Regions from separate parts of the Homo sapiens genome. Here region 2 is reported to be linked to region 1. The links are microRNA targets in miRTarBase. Many come from high-throughput screens and were not tested one by one. Region 1 holds a microRNA gene; the other region holds the end of a gene's coding sequence.
Evidence for each region. Region 1 holds the annotated microRNA hsa-miR-4704-3p (UCAGUCACAUAUCUAGUGUCUA, at 2,662-2,683, opposite strand). A microRNA usually pairs through its seed, bases 2 to 8, with sites in the 3' UTR of a target mRNA and lowers its output. Matches are read on the target gene's strand: a 7mer-m8 pairs with bases 2 to 8, a 7mer-A1 pairs with bases 2 to 7 and ends in A, and an 8mer does both.

Region 1 (5,073 bases):
ACTTCTGTAATCCAGAAGCTAGAAACTGCATACTGAGGATGACAGGGCTGTCCTATGAGCCATATCTGGCTGAAACATACCATCAAAGAGAGATATATGACATTTCAAAGCTTCTATAGTTTTTGGTCTTTTTGTTGTAGCAGCTCAGACTGTACTCTAACAGTACAGTAACATTTTAAAATTCAATTTCCATTTTATGCCTCCATTATTTCCTCATGTTCATTCCTTTTAAAGAGGCTATTCCCATTTGTTCAGCTGAGAAAGCCTTAATTCTTATTCTTTTTTGATGTGATACTTGTCTTGCTTCATCCACTGTGGGCTCTCTTCTATGTTTCGTAAGCACTATGGTCATCCAACTTTCTGTCGTTATTTATGGGCATTTAAAAATCAGCTATAGCCCTTTTAATTTGCACCTTGATGGAAGTAAGGAAATGTAATTCATTTCTATATTTCCATCCTCAGCCCTTAGCACATTGCTTGGCACATGCTATGATTCAAGAACTGTGTTTTGGATGCATGAACACAGAGAAACCTCCAAAAAGGGAATCTAAACCAGAGAAAAGCAGCCTGGGGACCTTGGGTTGGGGAGAGAGGAGCTACCTCACTGCTGGGCTTCCCTAAGGACTGAAGAATAAGGGAGAACACCAGAAACTGAATGCTTGATTGTTATGCATCTGTGCCTCAGGGTGGGTTTTTTTTTCCCTTAATTTTAATTTTAATTTTTTAGTGCCAGCTGGCAGAGGCCACTCTTCCCCTACCAGCTGCCTGCCTGAGGTGCTGGCCAGCTGCCGGCAGCTGTGCTATGGAAAGAGAGCCCACCAGTACCCAAGACAGACCACTGAATATCCCTTCTGTAAGCTTCCTTGATAACTCCCCTTTCTTAACATCTAACCCTGCGAGTTGTTATCCTTTGAACAGACAACTTTCTTCAAGGATTGAAGTGGATGTAGCTCTCTAAAAAAAGGCTTAGTGGATATCAACTTTATTTTCATGACCTTGTTTATATATTCTAGTCACACTACATATTTTTGTTTGTGACTGTCATGTGTGGAAAGGTGTTCCAGGACCTAAATATCATAACAAAAATAGGCATCTCAGTTGAGTGACTGCTTCTTTTCTCATTGCTTTTCCTGGTAAGTGAGATTGTTCAAGAAATTCTTCTCCCTCTTTTTTGGCTTCGGGTTTGTATTCTTGTTCCTATCAGTAGTGACCATAAGTTGTCACCTAATGGAATTAGTTCAGTGACCCTTACAAACTAAATTAACACTCTATCTCCAGTTTCTACTGGATATGTGTCTAAATCACAGTTGGGCACCTTGTTAGCTGCCTCAGTTAAGAGTTCAGTGAAAGAATAAGCCATCCTCCCCTTTCATCCCTAGGGGCTGTCTCTTAGTGTACTAGAGGCTCATTAGCAGCCTTGTAACACTGAGATTGCCCACAGTATACTTATTCTAACAGGTTTTCTTACTTTGAGACATGGTAAATGTCTATTGCAAATCCTGTTGACATTTAATTTTCAAATTATCTTCTGTATTTGTTTGCAATTTACTCATAATATATGCATAATTCCAATCTGTTGAAATATTGATTCTGATTTACGATTTAGTAAATTAAGGAATGGTTGGGTTGCATATTAAACTTTGGAAGTGACTCACAATATATTACATTTATATTACCCTTTAGAGTTGCACAAAGTCCTTCCATAAATACTGTCTATGAGCATAATGGGGAAAAGAATCATGTTTAATTTATCTTTAAATCCTTAGGGATATAACCCAATGCTAGCACATGAAAGACACATAATACAGGGTTTTTAGTGAACAACCAATCAAAGAGGATGATAGATGTGATAGTCTTAAAATCTACCCACAAATTAGTTGATACTTCTTGTATTTGTTTTCTATTGATGCTGTGATAAATGACCACCAAGTAAATGGCTTAAAGCAACACAAATTTAATATCTCACATTTCCTGAATTTAGAAGTCCAAAATGGATCAAAAATCAAATAAGGGCTCCAGCCTTCCAGAGGCTTGAGTTGAGAATCTGTTTCCTTGCCTTTTCCAGCTTCTAGAGGCTGCCTTGCCTGGGCTTGGCCTCACTCTGACCTCAGCTTTTGTCATCTCATCTCCTTCTCTGACTCTGACTCTCCTGCTCTCTCTTATTAGAACCTTTTGTGATTACATTAAGCCTGCCTGGATTATCCAGGATAATCTCTCCATCTCAAGATCCTTAACTTAATCATATCTGCAAAGTTTCCTTTGCCATGTAAAGCATAGCATAGATCTCTGAGATTAGAAAGTGGCATCTTTTGTGGGGGGTGGGAGGCATTATTTAGCCTACCACACTCAAGATGTTAGTCTAACTCCCCTCCTCTTGAATATGGACTGACCTTAGTGAATTGTCTAAGGAATAGAGTACAATTTAGTGACACTACAGGACTTTTCAGGTTAGGTTATTTGAGTCAATACAGTTTCTACCTGGCTCTTTTTGTCTTGGGTTTTGAAACCCTAAGCTACAATATAAGAAGTCTGGTTTCATTGAAGTTACTATGTGTTAGAGAGGCCAGCTGGAGATCACATATACACATGGTGAGATCACACAGAGAGATGATCAAGAGACAAGAGGTGTTCTAGCCCCCAGATGTTTGAGTCTTCTCATTCTAGACACTAGATATGTGACTGATTGAGTGAGGAAGACAATCACTCACATGCCTAGTGTCTAGGATAAGAAGATTCATCCTTAAGATGACTCCAGTCCCAGCCACCAACTGACTACAACCATAGAAAAGACTCGAGAAAGACTGCTGCCCGAGGCTTGGCAGAAAAAAATGTGTGAATGAAATCAATTAAAGGTATTGTTTTAAGCTACTGTTTTAGGGTAATTTACTATGGAGCAAGAGATAATCAGAAAAAATATAAAATATTTTTCCAACTTTAAAGATAAGAAAACAGAAGTTTAAAGATGTCAGCATATAGAAACATTCATGAAGCAAACCCAAATTAGAGAAGAATTAGAGTAACATCGAAAGTACTGAACAGGATCCTGGCCAGATCTCTGAAGTCCAGGTTCTAACGTTTGCTTGTGTGACTTTAAGTATGAGTCTTAATATCTCTGTGTCTCAATCTCCTTATCTGCCTTATCTGTAGAATGATAATAATAATAGTACCTACTTCATAGGTATATTCTGACTATTAAATGGTATAATGTAGATAAACATAAAAGAGTACCTGAAATTATTAATGCCACCAAATTATAAGCTATTTTTTAGTGTTTCATTATCAATTTAGTGCCTTTCTCAGGCTTACCAGTTTCCTTCCAAATAGCACTAAACTCAACTCATGAATGTTCAAGAATATTTTATGAAGATGTCCCAGTTGTCTGGGTTCTACCTCTATTGTCCCATTCAGAAATTTGAAGGGGGGTGGGAAACTTCCCAAATGAATGGCATCTCTGTCTGGAAGCAACTCTAATTCGAATATTTATTGGGCATAATTTGGAGATTCAAAAGCTTATTACTAATGTCCTACACTTTTTCTAAACCAATAGAGAGACTATTTCTTATGGAAAACCCTCTTGTCAGCGAACCAATTCTCAATTACCATTGAACTTTCTCCCACCATCTGCATATCTTCAAATATCTGTTAACTCCTTCCATTTGTCTTCTTACCTTCTACAGTTAAGTTATTTATCTATGATCAAGAAAAAGCATGTAACCAGGTTGCTGGCAGTAAAGGATCTATGGAATCCTATTTCCCCACTGCCCTAAACATTTATCAGCAAACCTCTTACATATCCCCAGTTGGTTTTACCTCCTATCACACTTAGCTCTTATTTCAATAATTGTAGTTTCTTAAAATCCCCAACTGCTCCAGCACTTTTCTTTTCGTCTAATAAATGGTACCAACATCTAAGTCACAGAAAAATATAAAATCCATGTACTCTTACATGGTCTTTTTTTTCCTCACTGAGAAACTCTCGTGTGTCACGTCAGGCAGTCATTGTTGGCAGACACATTCAATATTTAATCCCAGCCAATATCTTCTCAGGCAGTCGTGACAAACTCATGTCTCTCTAGGGATTTTAACTACATTTAAGAGAAGTTTAATTTTCTCCTTGTGGTTTAACCCATCGTTAGAACTCCTCCAAAAAGGGCCGCAGTTACAGAAAGAAAAAAATAGGCATCAGTCCAAGATTTCTTCATTTTTGTTTTTCTTTTGCTTTTCTTCTGAGTTTGCAATCTCATTACCTCTGCACCCATCAACACACACTCTTCACAGTCACAGCTCCACTTTGTTTGGAGCTCAAGACTCTGACCTGTTTCAAAGCAATAACCTATTTGTGCACAGAATGAAAATCATATTAGTGAGGTTGGGTGTTTTTCTTCTTAGGTACTTCTTTCTGTGTTCCAGAGTCTGATAAATCATTTCTTCTGACACTAAACTCTTTAGTGAGAATTTTTTAAATAACCAGTTGACCCTGGATTTTCTCGTGTACTCTCTAACTTGAACCACACATTCTACTATCAAGACAAATCCAAGTTGGTAGCCAACACATCTTCCTGAGAATTTGAGCTAGTTAAGTTAAGAACAAATGAATGTTTTCTTGATTCTTGGTATTAGTAAGAATGGAAACCTGAAGTTGATAAAGTTTTTGATTGAGAAAAGTAGTGTAATGAGGTTTTGCTTTTACCCTATTTCTCCTAAGTGAAGAACGACAAGGCATTGACAGTGAAATTAGTCTCTTCATTTATTGATTTGGCTCTTAAAAAGAAAGAGATTTTAGAGATGTCAAATAGTAAAATCAAAAAGGGATGTGTAAAGAAGTTTTTAGAGAAGCAGAATGGATGCAGATATTCAATGACTGCTTGAGACCTAACGAGAAATATTGGCTGGTTGTGGTGCCATATGCTCATCATCTCAGCCCTTTGAGAGACTGAGCTGGGAGAATTGCTTGAGGCCAGGAGTTCAATCCCAGCAATATAGCAAGACTTGATGGTACATACCTGTAGTTCCAGCTGCTTGGCTGGATGAGGTGGAAGGATCATTTGAGCACAGGAGGTCTATGCTGCAGTG
Region 2 (5,073 bases), not on the chromosome of region 1:
ATATGAAAGAGATGTTTGTTCTTCAGTATGAGACTAGTTAAATTATTATAGGCAGACATCACCATATTTCCCTTTAATTCTAAAGGAACAGAGGAGAACATTTAGGATGTTTAAATTTAATTCAATTCAAGAAATATTTAATGAGCACCTAAGTGACAAATTTCTAGGCCGTATTCCATATTATTGGCATTAAGGAAATAAAGTTTTATATTTGTATGTGCTGTATTTAATGTTGGCTAGCATTTATCCAAGCTATGAGGTTTTTTAATGCCTACATTAGGTCAATTAAAACTCCTGCTTGTACATACATTTAAAAGCATTTGAAAGATAGCTAATTGAAAGCACTTTTTAGTTCAGTTTTGAGGTGTCCCTACCCTCTCTTACTCAGTCCATCCATAAAAGGAATGTAAATCCCTACAGATGGCTTATAAACTACATTACTTTAGGACATTGAAAACATGAACTTAAATCAGAGTAAGGTTTGACTGCTGCTTGCTCCATGCCTTGTGTCAGTTAGAACTTCCGTGTTTTCAAGCTAGCTCTATACAAAATTAAGCATTATCTATTTTTCCCTCTAAAGGAAAGAAGGCGTCGGTGGATTTTACAAGGGAATTGCTCCTAATTTGATTAGAGTGACTCCAGCCTGCTGTATTACCTTTGTGGTATATGAAAACGTCTCACATTTTTTACTTGACCTTAGAGAAAAGAGAAAGTAAGCTCAAAGAGGACAATTCCAGTATATCTGCCCAAGGCAGCAACAAGCTCTTTTGTGTTTAAGGCATAAAAGAAGAATTCTGCATAGAAACATGGCTCATATTCGAAATTGCTCTATAGTCATTAGAAGCCAGAGAACTGCTAAGTCTCCTGCAATGTTTTTCTTGCTTTTTGCCTTCCCCATATATATGGAACTTGGCTACCTCTGCCTGAAATGGCTGCCATCAACACAATGTTAAAACTGACACGAAGGATAGAGTTTCACAGATTTCTACGTTTTATTGGTGGAAGCTGATTTGCAACATTTGCTAAATGGATTAGATGAATGTACTTCTTTTTGTGAGCTTACTTGCCTGGATTGCTTTAAAATTAACCTTTGTGCAATACCAAGAAAATAGCTCTTTAAAAGAATGTCTTTGTATGTCTCAAGGTAAATTAAGGATTTACTGAATAAGGTGTTGACCAAATCCAGACCATTTTATTTTATTTTTTTATTTATTTATTTTTTGAGATGGAGTCTTGCTTTGTCGCCCAGGCTGGAGTGCAGTGGCGTGATCTCAGCTCACTGCAACCTCCACCTCCCGGGTTCACGCCATTCTCCTGCCTCAGCCTCCTGAGTAGCTGGGACTACAGGCACCTGCCACCACGCCTGGCTAACTTTTTTTTATATTTTGAGTAGAAATGGGGTTTCACCATGTTAGCCAGGATGGTCTCAATCTCCTGACCTTGTGATCCGCCTGCCTTGGCCTCCCAAAGTGCTGGGATTACAGGCGTGAGCCACTGCGCCTGGCCAGACCATTTTAGAATTGGGAAATTTTAGTGAGAAAAAATGCACTGTAAATATGCTTTAGTTTTAATTCAGTTGGGATGCACTACCTAGCGAAAATTGAGAAACTATATACTTCTCAGAGAAATATCTGACATCTATTGTCATTCCATTGCTATTTTTTTTCCCCAGAGACTTCCATAATTTAAAATAAAATCCTAGATCCAGTTCTTGTTTTTTGGCATAAATACTTAATCTATTTTAAATTTATAAAATCTGAGCTTCTAGGATCCAGCTGTGTCAACCTTTATTTAGCATATATAACTATAAATCACTTATTACAGATGCTAAATAGATCACCTTTTACAGATGCTGAAATGTTTGGGATATGTTTGTTGACAAGGTAAATGGAAATGAGAAACTTTATACTTCAGTTTTCAGATATATGGATCTAGATCCCAAATAAATGATTAATCTTCATTGGTTTCTCAAATTCAGGTTGAAATACAAATTAATAGCCTTTATTGATTTTACTTTTATGAGTCATTGTAGACATCTATAAATATAAAAGGGCCTGTACCCAAAGGATGCCAGAATACTAGTATTTTTATTTATCGTAAACATCCACGAGTGCTGTTGCACTACCATCTATTTGTTGTAAATAAAAGTGTTGTTTTCAAAGCCATCTTTAAATAGTTCTTTAAAAATAGGTCTTTTTTTTATATTTTGGAAAAGGCATTGTTTTTAAAGTAAAGATAAAATGGTAAGTACCTAATTGTATTTACTGTAATATCTTATAACATGCAGATGAATGCTTTATAAGTTAAATATGATGTATTTTTTCATACTTCTGGATTATACTATAATTCATATGAAATCTTGATATTAGTCCCCACACGGAAAAAGTGAACTGCAGTTGATATTTGGTGTTTAAGATAGCACCATTGTTTAAATACCGCCTATGTACTCCCAAATGAATAAAACATAATTCTTGTCCTCTGAGAGCATACAAGCTTGTGTGATAGATAAATATGCATTAAATAATTACAGCTATAGATTAAGAACTCGTAAGGAATATCTCACAAAGCCTGGTAAGAGTTCTGACAGAAGAGAACTCAATTTCAGTCATTCAACAACAAATAGTCACTCAACTCCTGCTCTTTGGCAGGTACGTCACCAAGCACTGAGGATATAGCAATAAATAAGCCAGACAATATTCCTGCCCTCAGGGAATTTTCATCTTGGTGTAAGTGACAGAAAAGGAAATATATGCATAATGTAATTTCAGGTATTTAATGCTATAAATAAAACTACAGCAGAACGGGGGAATAGTGTTGCTATCTTAGGTAGTATGGTTGGGGTCAGGAAAGGTCTCTGAGATAGTATTTGGAACATTTTGAAAGAAGTGAGGAAGCGAGCCACAGTGAGAGGAAACACATTCTAGGCAGAGAGGACAGGAAGTAAAAAGGGCCTGAGGGAGGAATTAAGTTGGCTAGAGGGGATGGGTGAGGAGAGAGAGGAGGTTGGAGAAGTGGCCACTGCAGTATGGTGGGAAAGAGCTCAGGTGGGACAGCCAGGCCCTCTGGCTTCAAAATTCAGCTTTCCCATTTTCTGTTTGACCTTAGGCAGATCACTTCAGCCCTCTTTGTCTTAGGTTTCCTGATCTGTAAAATGGTGTCTTAGATCACTTCCTCTGTAACAATGCCGGAGATGGGGATTCTTGGGCAAGTGATTGAGGGAGCACTTTCAGGAGAAATCTGTAATGGAGTAAAGCAAGCAGGGTAAGGCCGGGGAAGAAGAGTTTCAGGAGTAGTGCAGCCTCACCCTGACTCATAGGGCACTCTGCTGAATGAATTGGGCCCAGCGTTGTCCTGCCCAGAGTTGAAGGGGCTGAGCCATTAGGTTCCCACATCAGGCTGTCACGGACCACTGGCTACAGGGAGAAAGGATGGAGGAGTGACTGTTACCTCTCCTCAGCCAAGGGCAATCCTCCAGATAAGGGTGGAGGTGTCAGTTCTTACCAGCCAACACCTACAGCAGCTAGGGTATGGGTGCACCAGTCCTGTGAAAGGGGTCTGGGTAAGTCACCAACAGCATCTACTGCAAATGAGGATATTAAAAGTACATAGCCGTAGGATTATTGAGAGGATTAAATTAATGAATTTTTAAAAGGCGCTTAGTGTGCCTGGGCCAATAAATGTTAGCAGAGACCAGGCCTTGTAGGCCATGGTGAAGAGTTTTGATTGAGAGATCATTCTGGTGATTGTATAGAGGAAACAGGAGAAAGGCAAAAAAGCAGGAATACTAGTTGGGAAGCTTTTACAAATGTCGAGTCATGAGCAGGTGGCAGCTTGGACCTGGTCGATGGAGTCTGAAGTGGTGATTTATAGCTTGGGGGAACTAGAGCAGGGTTCATGGAGGGGGAAACATTTAAGCTGGGCATTGAATGAAGATTCCAGAGGGAACCATGGAAAAAGGAAAGCACAGGTGACCTGCCTTGAACAGTGAGTTGTCAATTAATGTGATAATAAAAGGAAAAGGAAGAGAAAGATGGAAGATTGAGACCAGGACATGAGAACTCTCAGAGCCTGACAACCTATGTGGGCTTTATTGGGTAAAAGAGAAGTAAGAGTAATTAGAACAGAGAGACATGGCTACTGCTTAGGGGTGACAGAGGAAGACTGGTCAGACAGGAGGAACAAATTCAAAACAGAAGGTGTTAGTCAACCAATAGATATTTCAGTAGGATGAAGATTGATGCCACTGATAAAGCAGATTTGAATTATAGAGGCTGATGACACATTGCAAGCAACTTAGGGGGTGGGGTGACTGTAAGTATTTATTTCACTATGGGCTCTTCTTTCCTGGATTTTGGCAGATGAAAGGAAGGTAAAGAACTTTAGCTTGTAAAGGTACTGCAGTTCTACGAAGGAGTATAGGTAGGAGAGGTTGGCAAAGGGAAAACCAGAACATGGCTGTAGGGAGAACCCTTGAAGATAAAGATACAGGCTAAGGGGATGGGCACGGTGGCTCACGCCTATAATCCCAGCACTTTGGGAGGCTGAGGCGGGCGGGTCACGAGATCAGGAGATCGAGACCATCCTGGCCAACATGGTGAAACTTACTAAAAATACAACAATTAGCTGGGCGTGGTGGTGCGTGCTTGTAATCCCAGCTGCTCTGGAGGCTGAGGCAGGAGAATAGCTTGAACCAGGGAGTCAGAGGTTGCAGTGAGCTGAGATCACGCCACCGTACAACCTGGCGACAAAGCGAGACTCCGTTTCAAACAAACAAAAAAAAAAAACCAACTTGCTGGAGCTGTGCACCAGAGAATGTAATCAAAGACAATGGACAATGATGGGTACTATGCCTTGTGAAAAGAAGACTATCATATTTCAATACGTGCTTTTGTAGTCTGACAATATTTAGAAAGTCATGTCTTCTAAACACACTAAAAGAGGGATATCAACTAAAAAGTATGTTGGAGTTTATGAGTCATCAGAGTTAATATTTTCTTTTGAATGTGGACACTTAATATAAAATCCTCCAGATAAAGTATGTATTATTACCATTTTTATAACAAGGTCTCTTTA

Region 2: miRTarBase lists SLC25A32 as a target of hsa-miR-4704-3p. The part of its 3' UTR that is shown has no 7-base or 8-base seed match.

What each region holds. Positions count from the first base shown.
Region 1 is chr13:66,215,906-66,220,978 of GRCh38, reverse strand. It overlaps MIR4704 (microRNA 4704), which reads right to left and starts at 2,729; the gene lies at 2,655-2,729.
Region 2 is chr8:103,396,054-103,401,126 of GRCh38, reverse strand. It overlaps SLC25A32 (solute carrier family 25 member 32), which reads left to right. Exons shown (of 7, transcript NM_030780.5): 7 at 581-2,489. The coding sequence ends at 716. Among named protein-coding and RNA genes, the nearest start is that of SLC25A32, 17 kb to the left of the region's middle.